Regions from separate parts of the Homo sapiens genome. Here region 2 is linked to region 1. A link means that fine-mapping ties the variant in region 1 to the expression of a gene that starts in the linked region. Tissue or cell type: whole blood. Region 1 holds a variant in brackets; the other region holds the start of a gene. All regions are shown on one strand. Distances are between the middles of the regions.

Evidence for each region.
Region 2: PADI2 starts here. The variant in region 1 is fine-mapped to the expression of PADI2 in whole blood (INTERVAL, PIP above 0.99). The same link has a PIP of 0.9 or more in blood mononuclear cells.

Annotation. Positions count from the first base shown.
Region 1 is chr1:17,093,579-17,101,901 of GRCh38, reverse strand. PADI2 (peptidyl arginine deiminase 2) reads left to right here. Exons shown (of 16, transcript NM_007365.3): 4 at 5,932-5,993; 5 at 8,218-8,323. Among named protein-coding and RNA genes, the nearest start is that of PADI2, 22 kb to the left of the region's middle. The variant C/T (reference allele first, on the strand shown) is at 3,320.
Region 2 is chr1:17,116,264-17,124,586 of GRCh38, reverse strand. PADI2 (peptidyl arginine deiminase 2) reads left to right here and starts at 5,136. Exons shown (of 16, transcript NM_007365.3): 1 at 5,136-5,307. The coding sequence starts at 5,216. RefSeq lists silencers at 2,411-2,594, 5,117-5,326 and an enhancer at 4,011-4,545.

The DNA.
Region 1 (8,323 bases):
CCAAGGATAGATATTATTATTATCATCCTCATTTTATAGATGAGAAAATCAAGGCTCAGAAAAGGTAAAACAAATACTTGCCTGCAGCTACATCTCCAGAAAATGGTTGGTGAGATGCCAATCATTCCAGTTATCCCACATTCTCAGGGGGGGTCTCAGAATCTCCCCAAGATACAACTAACTCCCGAGCCAGCCCCTTCCTCTCTAGCCCTGTGCTCTCAGCTGCTTAAACAGGCTTAGCAGCAGGGCCCTTCTCATTCTTGGCTAATTCCCAAATGGGCTTGGTTGCTGGTCCCCCTGTCCCTCTTTCTGTCCCAAGGAGGTGCCCAGCCCTGGGGTAGGGAACCTCGGGATGACCTTGGTGAGGGTGGCAGATGATCAACAAAGACTCCTGGGTTGTACTGAGCCCTGGCACGTGTGTGAACCTTGCATGCACACAGCATCCAGGCAGTCTCAGATGACAGTCCCTGAGGAAACCTAATCCCACCAAGATAGGGACACCTGAGGACGGGGGCAGGAAGGGCAGGGGCCTGACACCTGTCAAATGAGGATGATCCCAGAAGGCTGACTGCACCATTAACAAGACTTCCACCAAAGCAAGACAGACTTAGGATAGATGGCAAAATAAGCGTCTATAAGGAGGCAGGACTGGACTTTTCCTCCTCACTAGGAGATGACAAAGCTGTGCTTAGAGGAAGCCCGCTCAGAGTTGGCGGCATGGCTGAGTCCCAAAAGATGCCACATGTGCCCACGACAAGTGACCAAGTTCATCCTTCCGAGGTCTGTTAATAATTATTTATTTAACTGCCACAAGTTCCAGATATTTAGATTCCATGGGCCAATCAAATGTCCCCTGCCCCCACCCCCCAAAAAATGAGAACACTAACAACTTTGATGCTTGGCAAAAAAAAGAAAAAAAAATACATCAATAAAACAATTTGTGGCCAGGCGCGGTGTCTCACGCCTGTAATCCCAACACTTTGGGAGGCCAAGGTGGGCAGATCATGAGGTCAGGAGTTTGAGACCAGCCTGGCCAATGTGGCGAAACCACATCTCTACTAAAAATACAAAAATTAACTGGGCGTGGTGGCACGCACCTGTAGTCCCAGCTACTCAGGAGGCTGAGGCAGGAGAATTGCTTGAACCCAAGAGGTGGAGGTTGCAGTGAGCCAAGATGGTGCCACTGCCCTCCAGCCTGGGCGACAGAGCGAGACTTTGTCTCAAAAAAAAAAAAAAAAAAATTTGCTATCAACTATCACTATCATTTTAACTCTTAAAAAATAGGCAAGGCATAATCTCAGAATAAAAGACAGTCATGGCCGGGCACAGTGGCTCACGCCTGTAATCCCAGCACTTTGGGAGGCCGAGGTGGGCGGATCACCTGAGGTCAGGAGTTCAAGACCAGCCTGGCCAACATGGTGAAACCCTGTCTCTACTAAAAATATAAAAACTAGCCGGGCATGGTGGTGGACGCCTGTAATCCCAGCTACTCAGGAGGCTGAGGCAGGAGAATTGCTTGAAACCAGGAGACAGAGGTTGCAGTGAGCTGACACAGTGCCACTGCACTCCAGCCTCGGCGACAGAATGAGACTCTGTCTCAAAAATAACACAAAACAAAACAAAAAACAGAATAAGAGACAGTCATTCAATTGCAAAAAGAAACTAACACCATTGAACTTCTGTTTCCTGTTCCAACAGAGACCCTGGTGAAAATCTGGTTTCCCTTGGGGACCACTGTTCTCTCTGTCCCTTCTAGGTTTTCTCTTTTCTCGAGCATCTGCCCCAGGAGCCCTTGAGCCCGTCATCCTGAGTAATCAATCACTCAGGGGCAGCGCCTCAGAGGCAAGCCCCCCCCCAACCCCAATATCTTGAGAGGCTGGGACTGTCCCCTGGGCACAAAAATGTATCTGAATCTCTCTCACCCTGGTCCTATCCTGAGTCCACATTGAGCAGAAAGAGCCTTGGCTTCTGGGTAGACAGAAGTAAGCCTAAGATCTTTCTCTGTCCCCTCCAGCCAGCTTGTGACAAGTCACATCATCCCCCTGAGCCTTGGCTTCCTCATCTATAAAATGCGCTTCACAGAGCAGCCTTGCATGGTGTTTACAAGGATTCAGTGGGATGTTGTGTGCGAAGGGCCCGGCACAGAGTGGGTGCTTAGTCAATGCTCCGCCTGCTTTTCTCTCTTGCTCTTGAGGTGGCCGCATTTTCTCTCTGCCTGGGTGAAGTTAAAGAAATGTATGGTCTCTCCTTCTTCCTTCTGGGATTTGGGAGCAAATTCATGATTCCTTTGGCCAGATCAGGCTCTGGGTCTTTGTCCCAATCCCGCCAAGGACTTGCTGTGTGACCTTAACAAGTAACCACCCCCACTAGGACTCACTTTTTACAAACTATAAAATAAGGGGTTTGAGCTAATTAATCCCTAAGGACCTTCAAGACCCTGGTTAGGGTTGATTTGCAAAGACTTCCATTTTTTGGGAGGGATGGGGGAGAGCAAGAGGTGAGGTGTGGGGAGGGAGGAAGAATCCCACCCTATTTGAGGTCCTGGCAGTGGAAGGAGTACACATATGCGGGCCCCAGAAAATTTTAACATCAACCTAAGGGGCTTGATCCTATGCCTTCTCCCCAGAGGCTGGGATACTTGCCCTGATTGGCTGTGGGGGAGGGTGTCCTTCCTTCCCATAACATCTCAAGCTGCTTAGTAAGGCAAGAAGGCCAGGCACCCTGCCACTCTCTGGCGACCCTCCAAAATGCTTGTGCCTCTCGGTCAGAGCTGAGGCTTCAGTGTCTTCATTCTCAGGGCAGACTGCCTTGAACCCAATCCTAGGGACATTTCCCGTCAATCTGCCCCACACCCAGGAGCCACCTGACGCCTTGGGGCTATTCTGGGGAACTGAGGTGGGATCCAGAGCCTCTGGGAAATGTCGTCTGGAGCCTGGAGGCCCTGAAGCAGAGCTCCTCTCCCTCCTCCCCCTCGGGAAGGCAGAGCCATCCCAAGAGGCAATGCTCTGGGCAGGTCACACCAGCCCTGTTCTCTGCCCCTACCCGCAGCATCCCACTGGAATCTAGTTAAATCAGACATTGGGGGAAGCCTTGCAGGGGCGAAGTCCCATGGGCATGACTACAGGGTGGGCGGTCTCTGAGGGTGAAGGGGCCAGAAGGTCATTTCAGTGGATTATGGGGACAGGTCATGGGTCATCAGAGAGGAGTTATGAAGCCCTGTGAGAGGCTGGGAGGACGATAAGGGAGCCACACTGTGAAATGCCCACATTTCGTAACAGGAAGGTAACGAAACCTGTCTGAATTCAGTAAATCAGGAAAT[C/T]GCAATAAGCATGAGAGAGGTTGCCTTAGGCAGCTGAGAAGAAGGGCTGGACAAGGAACTGCTGTCTTTCTTTAGAAACAGTGTGTTACTATTTTATTTGATTTTGTTTGTACTATGTCCAAATATTACATGAATAAAATGTTTCCATTTAAGAATTCATAATGAAATGAAGCAGTATAGACTGCACCATAATTTCTCTCCTAGCCCACGGCCCCACTGCTTTAATGGACTCGCCACAAGGAGTCCCAATGTAATGTCACCTTACGGCCTAGAGACGAAGGCCGCAGGGCTACCAAGGTGGGGAAATGGGCACTTCCTCTGGGAATGACCTTCAAGGGAGCAAGTCTTGTGTCTTTGACTTTGGGCTGGGCTTTTGGAAACAGCTTGCAGGGAGGTCAGCCTGGGTTCATTGCAGGGAACAGCAGAGAGCAGGCAGCCGGAGTCCGAGGCCCTGCTGAGAGCCTGGCTCTGCGTTCTGGGAACTTCGGTGGTCACTTCCCTGCTGCGGGCCTGGGTTTCCTCATCTGTATCGTTAGGGGGTGGGGGTGGTCACGCCTCCCCTGGAGTGGCCGAGAGAACACACCTTGGAAAACGCTGTGCAGCTGCAGAGCAGGATGCCCGCAGGGGAGAAATTTTTACCTTGAAAAGGACAGAGTGGCTCCCTAAAGAGGCTGGACCTGCGGCTCCTTCCGAGGGAGGAGTTTCAGGAAGCCAGCTCCCTGAAAGGCAGCATTCAGTGGACGTGACCGGCTGGAAAGTTCACAAAGGTCCAGGAACCAAAACCAGTATTATTCCTGCCCCTGCACCCCAGGCTCTTAGCCCCTGGTGGTACCGCCTTCCCTTCTTTCCCCTGGGGTCCTTATCCTGCACCAGCCTCCCAGATTACCAGCCCGATTTGCTGACAAGTGGCTTCTCTGAACCTGGGTTTGCTGCCCTGTGAAACGAGAGCAATGCTATTCATCTCATGGGACTGTGGACGCCTTGAGAGCAGGTGCTGTGCCTCCATTGCCCGTTGCCTGGTACAGCTCCCGGAGCAGTAGCTCCTCAGCAGTGAAATGTGGAGTGAATGCGATCGGAGGGAGGAGGTTACAAATTATGCCTTACAGCACCTAACTCACCGCACAGCTGCAGAGGCTGGGACACACAAGACTGCCTCTCTCAAGGGCCAGGCGCCCTTGCAGCCTCCTTCTAGACTGGAAAAGTCACATGCAGGTCTAGGGTATGCAGGCTATAGGCAAAGGGAGGACCTGAATGTGATCTCTGGACTCTGGGCTTGGTTGGCCCAGAGAAGGGTGACATCAGTGCACTTCGTGTGCCAGGACCCTCCTTTCCATGCCCTCCAGGCAGAGGGTGTGCCTGCCACGGGGACTAACCAGGAATGCATTCATTACCACCCAGCGCCCACCAGGTCCAAGTCATGCTCAGCGTGAGATGAGCCCACTCGGGCAGCTCTGGGGACCTGGAACGGGCACATGTCATGTGTGTGACACTCCCAACACCTTCCCAACCACATCCCTACTCGACCTCATCCGTCTCCAACTCAAGGCAATTTCGCCTCCCAAGGGACATTTGACAATATCTGGAGACATTTTTGGCTGTCACGACTGGGAGGGATGTTACTGGCATCTGGTAGGTAGAAGCCAGGAGTGCTGTTAAACATCCTACAATGCACAGGCTGCCCCCACACAAAGAGTTATTTGGCTCAAAAATGTCAGTAGTGCCTTCCATTGCAGCTAATGCATCTGCTGTAACCAGGAAGGGCCCCATGTTACAAGTGAGGAAACTGGGGCTCAGAGAGGTCCTCTAACCTGCCCAAAGTCACACAGCTTATAAGCAGAGAACCAGGGTCTAAACCCCACCTTGTCTGATACTAAACCTTTTCACTTCCCTACAGTCTCCACAAAGCCTGTCTCCATGGCAGGCCTAGGGATGCTGAGGGTCCCTTCACCAAGAGAAGGGATAAGTGGGGGCCTGGCCCTGGATCCTCCATCTAGACTCACAGGTGACCTCAGACCAAGAGGGGTTAGAGACAGCTTCCCACCCACAGTAAAACCCTCAGTCCTTGAAGGTGGGATCTAGCCCACTGGAAGTTCTGGGAGAGAAAGAGACACGCACACCCAGGTGCACATGTGCACACCTATGCGCATGCCCGGGTAGACTGAGAAAGGCAGTTTGGGAATGCTATCCCTGTTAAGTTTTCAGAATATGAACTATGAATCAGACCAACCGCACTGTGTACCCCAGTTCTGCTAGCGTCCCTATGTGATCTTGGGCATGCGACTTCACCTCTGAACTGAGGCATCCAGATCTGTGCAGCGAGGATCATTCCCCAACCCCCAGCCAGAACAATGAAGTGGTAGGAGGTCCCAGACCTCCCCGATGGCAGCTCTTGCAGCCGTAAGCTACGAGGTCCACACGGTGTCTGCTGACGGTCTCCAGTGGGTAGTGGGATGTTGAGGCAGGGGGTTGCATAAGATGACTTCAGCGAGGTCCTCTCTTTCCCGTGACCAAATGAATGGCTGAGACGCACCCAAATCCCACAGGTCTTCCTCTTGCCCCTGCCCTGCCCTGCCTGGCAGGCTCAGCAACTCACCCATGTCTCTTCTCCCCAGAGATCTCCCTGGATGTGGACGCAGACCGGGATGGTGTGGTGGAGAAGAACAACCCAAAGAAGGTACCTAGCTTTCAGGGCAGGCACCACCCTGAACCCAGGGCTTCCGAGGGCACAGCCCCAGATCCCGCAGGCAATTCCCATTTCACAGCTCAGGAGACTAAAGCCCAAGACAGGCTCCCAGACACACAGCATACCAATGATGGAACCCACAGAGGAGCTCAGGCATCTCCTAGAGACGGCAACAGAGCAGGCTCCTGAGTCTCAGTTTCTCCATCCCATGATGGGGACGCCCAATTCATGGAACTGCTGGGAAGGATAAATGTGCCCGCTACAGAGGAAGCACTGTGAAGGCATTTGCTCTTATTATTTTGCCTGTTCTTTTAAGACTAGGGAGGTGGGGGAGACAGACCCTCAGGACAGAGGGTCGCATTCATCATTCTCAGTTCCAGGCGTGGTATTATCTCTGCTGGTGCATGCACGGCCCCTCTCCTCTTTCTATTTATTCTTGCATTCATTCACCATTCATTCATTTGTTCCCTCGTTCATTTACTTATTTTCTTTTATCTTGCATTCCCCACTCCCATTCTGCTCCCCCACAGAGGACCATTTTGCTGGGTTTAATGTGTCTCTTTCTGCTCTGGTGACTCTCAGGAGGCATGTGGTGTGGTTGGTGTGCATGTATTTTTAATTTGTGCAGACGGCATGGTGTTCTCCATCACATTCTGTTTTGTACTTTTCCCTCAACCTAGTTTTTAGGCTCCATCAGTCTTGCTCTGTGTACATTCAGGCTGTTGCTTCTAACTGCTTTCCATTTTCTGCCCTTCTGTATTATCTCAATTTTTGCCATGGGCATATGTGACTTTTATAATAACACTCTGAAGCCTAGAGTAAAGTATACATAGAGGGGTACTTACGAAGTAAAATAAACACAGCCTGATGAGAAGCCTGGGTCCTAGCAGCCTGCTACCCTGACTCTCTGCAGGTCAGGAGAGGGTTCTCAGCCATGTGGGGAAGTCCCTTCTTCTAGGATCGTGAGCAAGGCTTGCCTGAGACCAGGGCCAGCCCTGCACACTCATTCTCTGAGTCTATGGCCAAGCCATATGAGAATGAACTCCACAGAGGCCTCTGAAACCCAGCAGCCCCAGGGCGACAGCTTCCAACCTCCCCCAAGGGGCTGGGCAGTCTTGGGAAAGTCACACGATCCCCATGAGCCTGAACTTGGCCAGAATTTTTAAATCTGGGCCGGTGAAGTTTTCACATTTTCTTCACTCATCCCATAAATATTTGCTGAGCATCTTTTATGTTCCAGGAGCGGGTCAGGCCCAGGGGACACAGAAAGAACAAGAGAAACACAGCCCTGGCCTTAAGGAGCCCATGGTCCACATTAAATATGGAGTGTTTCGGATAGCTGTGTCATCACAGTTGTCCTAAGTCCTCCCAAAAAGGATGTGTACAGGGCCAGGTGTGGACCCGGGGAAGCTGCTCTGTCCTAGAGAATCAGAAAGGCCTCCAGGAAGAAGAGACAGTCATGCTGTAACCGAGGAAGGGTAGAGTGGGCCAGGTGGAAAGGGGCAGGACAGGAGCAGAGGGACTGGCATAGGCAAAGGCCTGGGAGCTTGAGTCTTTTGGGAGCAGAAAGGCGCCGGGATGGGTGGGGCAGAGTGAGCGAGGGGCAAGGCGGAGGAGATGAGACAGAGAGGAAGGCAAGTTTCACCAGGCCTTCCAAGCCACAGCAAGGAATCAGGGCTTCATGCCAACTCAACTGGGAGCCCCTGACCTGGCTTAAAGCAGGGAAGCAACACAATCTGGCCCGAGTTTGTTCTAGTAGTGCTATGGCTGCAGTGTAGAAAGTGGAGCACCATGCAGGTCCCATTCGGAGCACTAGGAGCGTGTCTGGAAACAGCTGGGTGGCATCCATCCAGGCGTCTCCTCCTGAGCTCCCCTAGGGACCTAGGGACCCATGGTAGAATGTCTGTCTGCTCATTTCTCTGGCCAGCCTCCACCTCCCTGCCTCCACCCACACCAGACACCAGCTGCACCAGACAGGAGGCCCATAAATGCCTCAGTCAGCCTTCCTGTCTCTGTGCCTCTATTGAACTTGCCTTTGATGCCCACATTCATCCTCTGTGGACATCAGTCTTGAGATTCACATTTGCCAGGTCACAGCTGCCCCAGTGGGTGGCGGCTACTCTTTACCCTCATCCTGGGGCTATCTCTCCAGTGTCCCATGGGGTCTATACAAGCATAGAGAAGAGGGCACTGACCTTTCTTCCTGCCACTGTAGGCATCCTGGACCTGGGGCCCCGAGGGCCAGGGGGCCATCCTGCTGGTGAACTGTGACCGAGAGACACCCTGGTTGCCCAAGGAGGACTGCCGTGATGAGAAGGTCT
Region 2 (8,323 bases), 23 kb before region 1:
GGCCCCCACTGATTCTACATTACGGTGAATTGTAAAATTGTTTCCTTATGTATTACAATGTGATGATAGAAATAAAGTGCACAAGAAATGTAATGCGCTTGAATCATCCCGAAACCATCCCCACCCCCATCCATGGAAAGCCTGTCTTCCACAAAACAGGTCCCTGGTGCCAAAAAGGTTGGGGACCACTGTTTTACACCTACAGCATGTGTCAGTTCAGATTAGCCACATAAACCTTGTCTGGCAGTGGCTACATGTTGGAAAGCATGGGTCTAGGACCTCCCAGGCTTACTCTGGCCCCCTGGCAGCCCCTCAGACAACTGGCTTATTACATCTTCTCCAGAATTCACCTTTCTAGCTTTGCTTCACTGACTAAGGGTAGAACCCTGGCCCGGACAAGTCATCTTACCCTTGGATGTATAAAATAAGGGTAAGAAAAATACTTACTTCTGGGGTTGTAGCAAGGATTCAATGGGATAACATACACACAGTGCTTAGCGCAGGTGCCTGGCAGGGAATAAATGCTCCATAAATGGTGACCTAATGAATGAAAGCCTTAGCCCATCTTTCAGCATGGTGATGGTTAATTTTCTGTGTCGATTTGGCCAGGCTATGGCACCCCATCATCCAGTCAAACATCAGTCTGGATGTTGCTGTGAAGATATTTTTCAGATGTGATCAACGTTTAAATCAGTAGACTTTGAGTAAAGTAGATTGCACTCCAAAATGTGGGTGGGCCTCATCCAATCAGTTGAAGGCCTTAACAACAAAGACTGAGGTTTCCCAAAGAGGAGGCAATTCAGCCTCCAGAATGCAACATAGAAACCGTGCTGTTTCCAACCTGTAGATTTCAGACTCAAGACCGCAACATCAATTCTTCTCCCATTTCTGACTGGCCAGCTCTACAAATTTCAGGCTTGTCAGCCCCCACAACCATGTGAGCCAATTTCTTAAAATAAATCTCTCTCTCTGCATATATAAATGTACCCCCGAGTGGGGTACAGCCACAGCAGCACGCAGAAGAGACATGACTTCCTCATTCTGAACTCACGCAGTATTAGAACAATGGAGCACCCCAGCCCTTCCCCGCCTCTGAGCACGATGTCTCTCAGGACCGAGAGCTGAGGCAGAGGCTGAATCAACGCCCCCATCCCAGAGACTCTTCTCAAGGGAGTGAGACCAAAGGGTGGGCTTTGCCAGGGGAAAGGGAATGTGACGGGGCCAGGCAGGGCCAGGGTTATGGGGATCTGCTCTTGAGGGTATGACTGCAGGTCCCCATGGTGCAGAGTCAGGGGTTGGGGCGATCCCTGGCCACAGAAGGATTGCTTTGGGGATCCATGGCCCAGACCCCGACCTCTTCCTTTCTCTGGTCTCCTGCCAGAATTCCTGTCAAATTTAGCTGCCTACAGCAGCCAGAGTGATTTTCCTAAAGTGTACATCGTGCCGTTGACACCTTCCAAAGTCCTTCCCAGGCTTCCCCCATGACCCCATAAAGATAAAGCCCCAAAGCCTTTTCCACGACTTACAATGCTCTGTGTGACCTGGCCACAGCCAGCCCAGCCTCTCACATTGTGGAAGCTTTGAAGTATGTTATCAAACAGCATGTAGTCAGAAGCCCATGTTTACAAAAACTTAAAATAACTATATACGCATAGGAAATAACTACCGTCTACTGGAACTTGGGTCTGTGCCAGGCCACGATGTGCAGTACCTTACTGGATATCATCTTGTTATTCCTTGTTCCTTATAACAATTCCTAGTATCTCCTTTATAGAAGAAGAAACTGAGGCCCAGAGAGGCCCCCAGCTAGTGAGGGGCAGAGCCAGACTTGACCCCAGGTCCACCAAGACCAAAGTCCATGCTCTTCACTGCAGGCTGGTTGGTGCCTCTGTGCAGATGGAAGATAATAATAGCTCTCACCTCACAGGGCTGTCGTGAGGATTAAACAGGCTGAGATGTGTGTGTGAATGGGCTCTGAACAGCTCCTGGCATGGCGCAAGGGCTCAGGAAGTGTGCTGCCCCACAGCAGCCTGTGGGCAGCCCGGCCAGATCATACTCATAGATTCAGACTGATCTCTGGTACTAGGGTCATGGGTGATCATATTTTTTTTAACTTTTCCACAATGACCAGGTAATACTTGTGCATTTTTTTCTTTCTTTTTAAATTATTGTATGTATAGTGCTCTCAGTAAGCTGTCTGTTTCCTCAAAGCAGGCTTGTCGAAGTTTGAGTGGCCTCCCTGGTTCCCCCAAGGCCTGGCCCGGAGACCCCACACCCAGTGGAGGAACCTAACAGAAAACAGCTCAGAAGAGCCCCTCTTAGCCCAGGCACCCTGCCCACAGGCTTGGCAGGGGCGCTTGCTGGAGGGGTGGGTGCGGGTCTGTGCCAGGAACTGGCCTAAGCTAAGTCCCCAAAAGACACCGTGAGATGCTTTGTGGCTCTTCCGGATCCCAGGGGAGAGGTGGGAGCAGCCGTGATGCATGCGACCTCCGGCCCTGAATCCACCAACAGCTGTGACTACTTCAGCTATTTTAAACCTCTGGGCACCAGGAAACTCCTGTCTCATCAACCAGGCTCTGGGCCCAACATGATGGCCTGAGCCCGGGCAGGAGTCCTGAGTGTGGGTGGCCAGGTCTGAATTGGGTTTTTAAGGGGAGGGGGCTTCATTTCTTGAGCCTTGTGCCAGGCTCTGTGCTAGTATTTTCTGCACCTTGTTGTCTCGTTTAATACCGTCCTTACACCGTGCTGAGGGATCAGTTACTTCACAGAGGCAGAAAATGGGGCTCCGAATGGCAGGGTACCTGGCCCAAGGCGGCACAAAAGCAGAGCTGGGCCTAGAACTGCGACTTCCTTATCTACAAAGCATGGACAGCATTCTGCCCCTGCCCTCACTCGGCCTTGCCCCCTGCCTCCACCCCAGTGGCCCTGCAAGCTCCTCCCTCTGCCACTCTTAGGAGCTCTGCAACCCAGAGTCAATTCCCCCACCTCCTCACAGCTCACTTTCTTCATCTGTAAAGTGGCGGAGTTACTGGGAGGGTTCAGTGATCTAACTCTAATACATGAAAAGAGCCGCTTGGAACAGTGCCTGACCCACAGAAAGAAAGCAGTAAGTGCCCGCTCTTACTCCAGCTCCCCTGGGTATTGCGGTCTGATGTTATCACTATCTTGCCCAGTGTCCTGTTATGAGCTGCCCGGGGTCTCCGTCAGTGGGGGGTACAGTGTCCTCCCCCACTCTGGCCCCAGTCTCCCCATGAGTCAAATGAAAGTTAGAGCCCCAGGAAGGTGAGAACCCTGGTGGGTGCCCGTTATCTGTCACACAGTAAGGGCTCCAAAGTCACTCGTGGCAGAGGGGTGCCCAGACACGAGCTCACCTCTGGGGGCGCCTCGAAGTCTCTCCAAGCTACACAAGTTTTGTCCCAGTTTGGCAGGTGGCCACCCGAGAGATTCCTCCTGATTGGAGGATGTGCTCAGCCGGGTGCCTGGAGTTCATCAGAAGTTACTGGCCTCGGCCGGGCGCTGTGGCTCACGCCTGTAATCCTAGCACTTTGGGAGGCCGAGGCAGGTAGATCACCTGAGATCAGGAGTTCAAAACCAGCCTGGCCAACATGGAGAAACCCCGTCTCTACTAAAAATACAAAATTAGCTGGGTGTGGTGGTGCCTGCCTGTAATCCCAGCTACTTGGGAGGCTGAGGCAGGAGAATCAATTAAACCTGGGAGGCGGAGGTTGCAATGAGCTGAGATGGCGCCATTGTACTCCAGCCTGGGTAACAAGAGGAAAACTCTGTCTCAAAAAAAAAAAAAAAAAACAGTTACTGGCCTCTCCCTGGGTCTGTGAGCTGTGCCTTTGGGGGACAAATGACCTCCTGGCTAAAACTCGGGCCTTCCCTCTTCCCCACTCACATTCCTCCCAAATCCCTGCCACTCAGAAGCAGCTGGGCTCTTCACCACCTCCTAATTTGGGCCGCCTCAGGGAGAAGGTTGGAGTCCAAGGGCTGGGTATATCAGCACTGGGCACTTGTGGGCCTCACCCCTCTTGTCTGGGGGCACCCGTTCCTGGAGCTCCATCTTCCATCAGCTCTAACTCCTTCCCAAACACACATCCCCTCCGCCCCACTCCTTCCCTCCCACGGCCTCTGCCCACCCCCCCTCAGTTTCTGTCCTCACCTACCAAAGACCACTTCCTCACACAGGGCTGATGTATGTGTCTGAACAGCACTCCCACTGGGTCCCAGGGGAAGGGCTGGGACATGGGAGGGGCTGGCCGAGGCCCACACTGATTGTCATCCTACATCTCAGCCTCTGTGAGACACACGATGACCTCTGGGTGGCACCCCCCTTCCCTTGGTGGCCCAGGCCAGAACCGGGGCCCTAATCCTTACCCCTCTCCTCTCCCTCCACCCACACATCCTATCAGTCACCAGGTGCCACCAAAATCCCAGTCCCTAAGCAGTGGCCGGGTCAGTCCCCACCTCTCCAGCTCTGGCCACAGCCAGGGGCTTCCTTGCCCCTCCCCAGCCCAGAATGACCCATTTCACGAGCACACCCGACCACGGCTCGCGGAGACAACCACTCCAGGCTCCCATCTCCCACCCTCCAATGCCTTGGCTTGGCGTCCTGGTCTCCCTCAGCTGCCGGGTTCCCCATCCCCACCGCTTCCCGTTTTCTCTATGGTGAGGTTCATCTGACTGTTGGGGGATGGGGGTACCGGGCTGCACCCGGCTTTGCACAGGCAGCTCCCTCTCCTCGCCTTTAATTTGCAAACGCCTCCTTTAAGAAGGTTCCAGGATCGTCTTCTCTGGGAAGGCTTCCTGGCCCCCAGGCTGGGTTAGGGCACCCTCTTTGTGTTCCCACATTTGCATTTTCAGCCCCACTGGGCTGGGGCGTCCGGAGGGGAGCTAGGGCCCTCCAACACCTGGGCGCCCACCGAAGGTTTGTCGAATGAAAGAATGACAATCCAACCATGGAAAGCACAAAACTGGTCCCTGATGACTTCGCCACGACCTCAGCGGGGCGGGACGAGTTAGGGGCGGGACCACGCTTGACGGACAGGCCCGCAGCCCACTGCGAGAGGACTGGGGCGGGCCGCCCCGCCCACCGGCCGCTGGATAAGGCTGCGCGCGGGGCCGTGGGGCGCAGGCTGCTGGAGAAGGCGCACCTGCTGCAGGTGCTCCCGGCCGCCCCGGACCAGCGAGCGCGGGCACTGCGGCGGGGAGGATGCTGCGCGAGCGGACCGTGCGGCTGCAGTACGGGAGCCGCGTGGAGGCGGTGTACGTGCTGGGCACCTACCTCTGGACCGATGTCTACAGGTGAGCCGGCCCACCGTGATGCCCGGGCCGAGATCTCGAGCCCAGAAATCCTGAGACGCGCTCAGACTCGGGGACGTGGACAGCCTTTGTCCAGCCCGAGTTGTCCCTCATCCCGAGCCCCCGAGCCCAGAAATCCTAAGAATCTCATCCAGAAACCTGACAACCCCCGAACCTTGTGTCCACCTTCCAGAAACCCTGAGACTCTCCCAGACCCCCTAACACAGCCTCAGCCCCAGCTCCCTCACAGACCCTCCCTTTCACCCGTAACCCTCCGTCTGGCCCTCTCCAGTTCTCCTCCCGGGGGACCTCACACCCCTTCAGCTTCCCTGCCGTCCTCTCCCCTTTCACTTCCCCTCCGCACCTCACTTCCCCTCGGACCCACCTCAACCCAGCCCCTCTCCTGCTTCCCACTCCCAGTTCAGCGGAGCTTCCGCGGAGACTTGCCGGGGACTGGGGCAGGACCCGAAGGGAGCTGCCCTGAGGCTGAATCCGGCCCTGGAGGTTACTCAGGCTCCGATTTCGCCCTGTGGGGGCTGCTGGTGGTTGCTTGTCCCCAGGCACTGGCCCTGAGCTCCGTGTCCCCAGATACCTTCCCCTGACTTCATTCTGAGACCACAGAGGGACAATATTCTACCCAGCTGACGACGGGGACTTGGGGTGTATAGCGGGGTACTTTGTTGGAAAAGGATCCTGATTCAGAGTTCTGCTCCCTCCCCTTCTCTCTGTCCAAGAACTTGGTAGAGTGCGGGATGTCCGAGACAGCTGAAGGTAGGGTAGGGCCCTACCACTCCCCCCGCAATCCCAGAAAGCAGCCAAGTCCAATGATCTGTCTCCCTGAGTAATGGGACGGGGCCTTGGAAAGGTGTGGCTGGTGTGAATGAAAGGGTGGGGTTATGCTGGGGTTTGATCTGCCCCCTCTATTCCAAGCATTTAAAACCTCCCCATTGCTAGGGTTGGAGGGGTCAGTGCTGGGGGCAGGGAGCATGCAGGACTCTGAGGTGGGACCCTGTGCTGACACCGGATGAGTCCCCTATCCTCTCTGCCTCAAGCTGAACTCACACGGAGGCACCATCGTGGTTTATGGCTCTCAAATCATCCTGACACCTGGAGCACCCTGCCTCTCCCAGGCCCCCACCAACCCATCATGTGTCTCCCCACACAGCCCTGGCAGCCCTCCCACCTGCCCAACCAGTCTCCTGCCACCGCTGCAGAGGCACTGGCCACGCTGATACCAACAAGCCCCAGGACTAGGGACCCACTCCATGCCTCTGTCCCTGGCCTCAACCTCTGCCTTCCCCTGGGCCTGGGCTTCAGTTGTCCCCCATGTAAACCTCAGAGGTGGACTGGGTGGTCTCTGAGAACAAGAACACAGCAGTGGAGGGTGGTCCAGGCTCTGGTGGGGTGCAAGAGCTCCCCTGCCTTCCCCACCCCCAGCCCTGAACTGGGCACCGCTAGGGAGTGGGCGCGGAGCCAGAGTGCTCAGGTCTCTAAGCCTCAGCTGTCACCATACCCACCTGTTTATTTGCTGGGGCATGGTTGGTGCCGCCTGAAAAGCTGGCATGATCCTCCCAGTCGGGGGTGGGGAGCAAAGGAGGGTTCCTGCTCAGGCGCCCTGCTATCGCTCTATCCTGGCAAAGAGAGGCCCAGCTGGGGTAGGGGCACAGAGTGGGGCAGATATGGACTCAGCCTCCCTCTAGCAGGGGGCAGCAGTGTGACGATTCCCCTTGTCCTGTCTCAACGACCACAAAGACCCTAACCCCCACCGGCACTTAAGGTTCTCCACCACCACAGAGAGGGGCAGTGCGCTCTAGACCAGTACTGTCCAGAAAAGTCCAGTTTGAACCACAACAAAACCACAATTGCATTTTAAATCTTCTAGTAGTCCACACTTTTTTAAAGTTAAAACAACAGGCATAATTTTAATAATATATTTTGTTTAACCCAATATTTTAGAATATTATCATTTCAACATGCAATCAATATAAAAATTATTAAGGAAATGGTTTACCTTCCTTTTTTCATGCTAAGTCTTTGTAATCCAGTGCACATTTTACACTTCAGCACATCTCAGCGTAGATTGAGTGCATCTCAGGTGCTCACTGGCCACCGTGAGCCAGTGACACCGGGACAGAACAGGTCTAGTGCAGAGTTTCTCAATCTCGCACTATTGCATTTTGGGCTCGATATTTCTTTGTTGTAGCGGGATGTTTAGTGGCATCCCTGACCTCTGTCCCCTAGATGCCAGTAGCAACCCCCAAATTGTGACAACCAAAAATGTTGCCAGACAGTGCCAGCAGTCCCCTGGCAGGGGGCAAAATCACAGCCAGCTGAGACTCACTGGTCCAGTGGAAGGAAGCCTCTTCCAGGACTAAGGAGCTTGAGTTGTTACTGCTATTGTGACTCGAGTTACCTGTAGTAATGAGAGCAACTGCCAGTATTGATAACAGGAGGAGGTATTAGTGGGCACTTAGGAACTGAACCCACCACCTCCTTTCTTCCTCACCATAGACCCTGGAGGGTTCATTGATCATCCCATTTTACAGATGAGGAAGGTAAGGCTCAGAGAGATGAAGCCATTTGTCCAGAGTCACACAGGACTCAGGTCCAGGTCTGTTTGACTCAGAACTCATGCTCTTATACCCCACTCTGTCCTATGTGACCCTAAAACCAGCGGGTTGAACTGGACGGCCCTCTCAGCCTGTGTCTCTTCCACCCTGGCCACGAGCCCACTGTCCCCAGAGACTTCACCAACTCCCATTTGGCCCTCCACTCTTCCCTGAGTCCTTTGCTGCCCGGACACAGGTCCTGGCTCAAGACCCCAAGTGATGCCCCCAGAGCCTCCAAGTAGACCCCAAGGAACAAGGCCCGGGGGTGCTGGGCCCAGTTAATTACGGAGTGGCATCCTGACCCTCACTCCTTCTGAGTCGCAAAGGTGAGCGAAACGGCCTCAGCACCCACTCCCTTTCCCAAGGGCTCTGGACTCCCTTTCCTGTGATGCTGGCACACAGGATCCCCT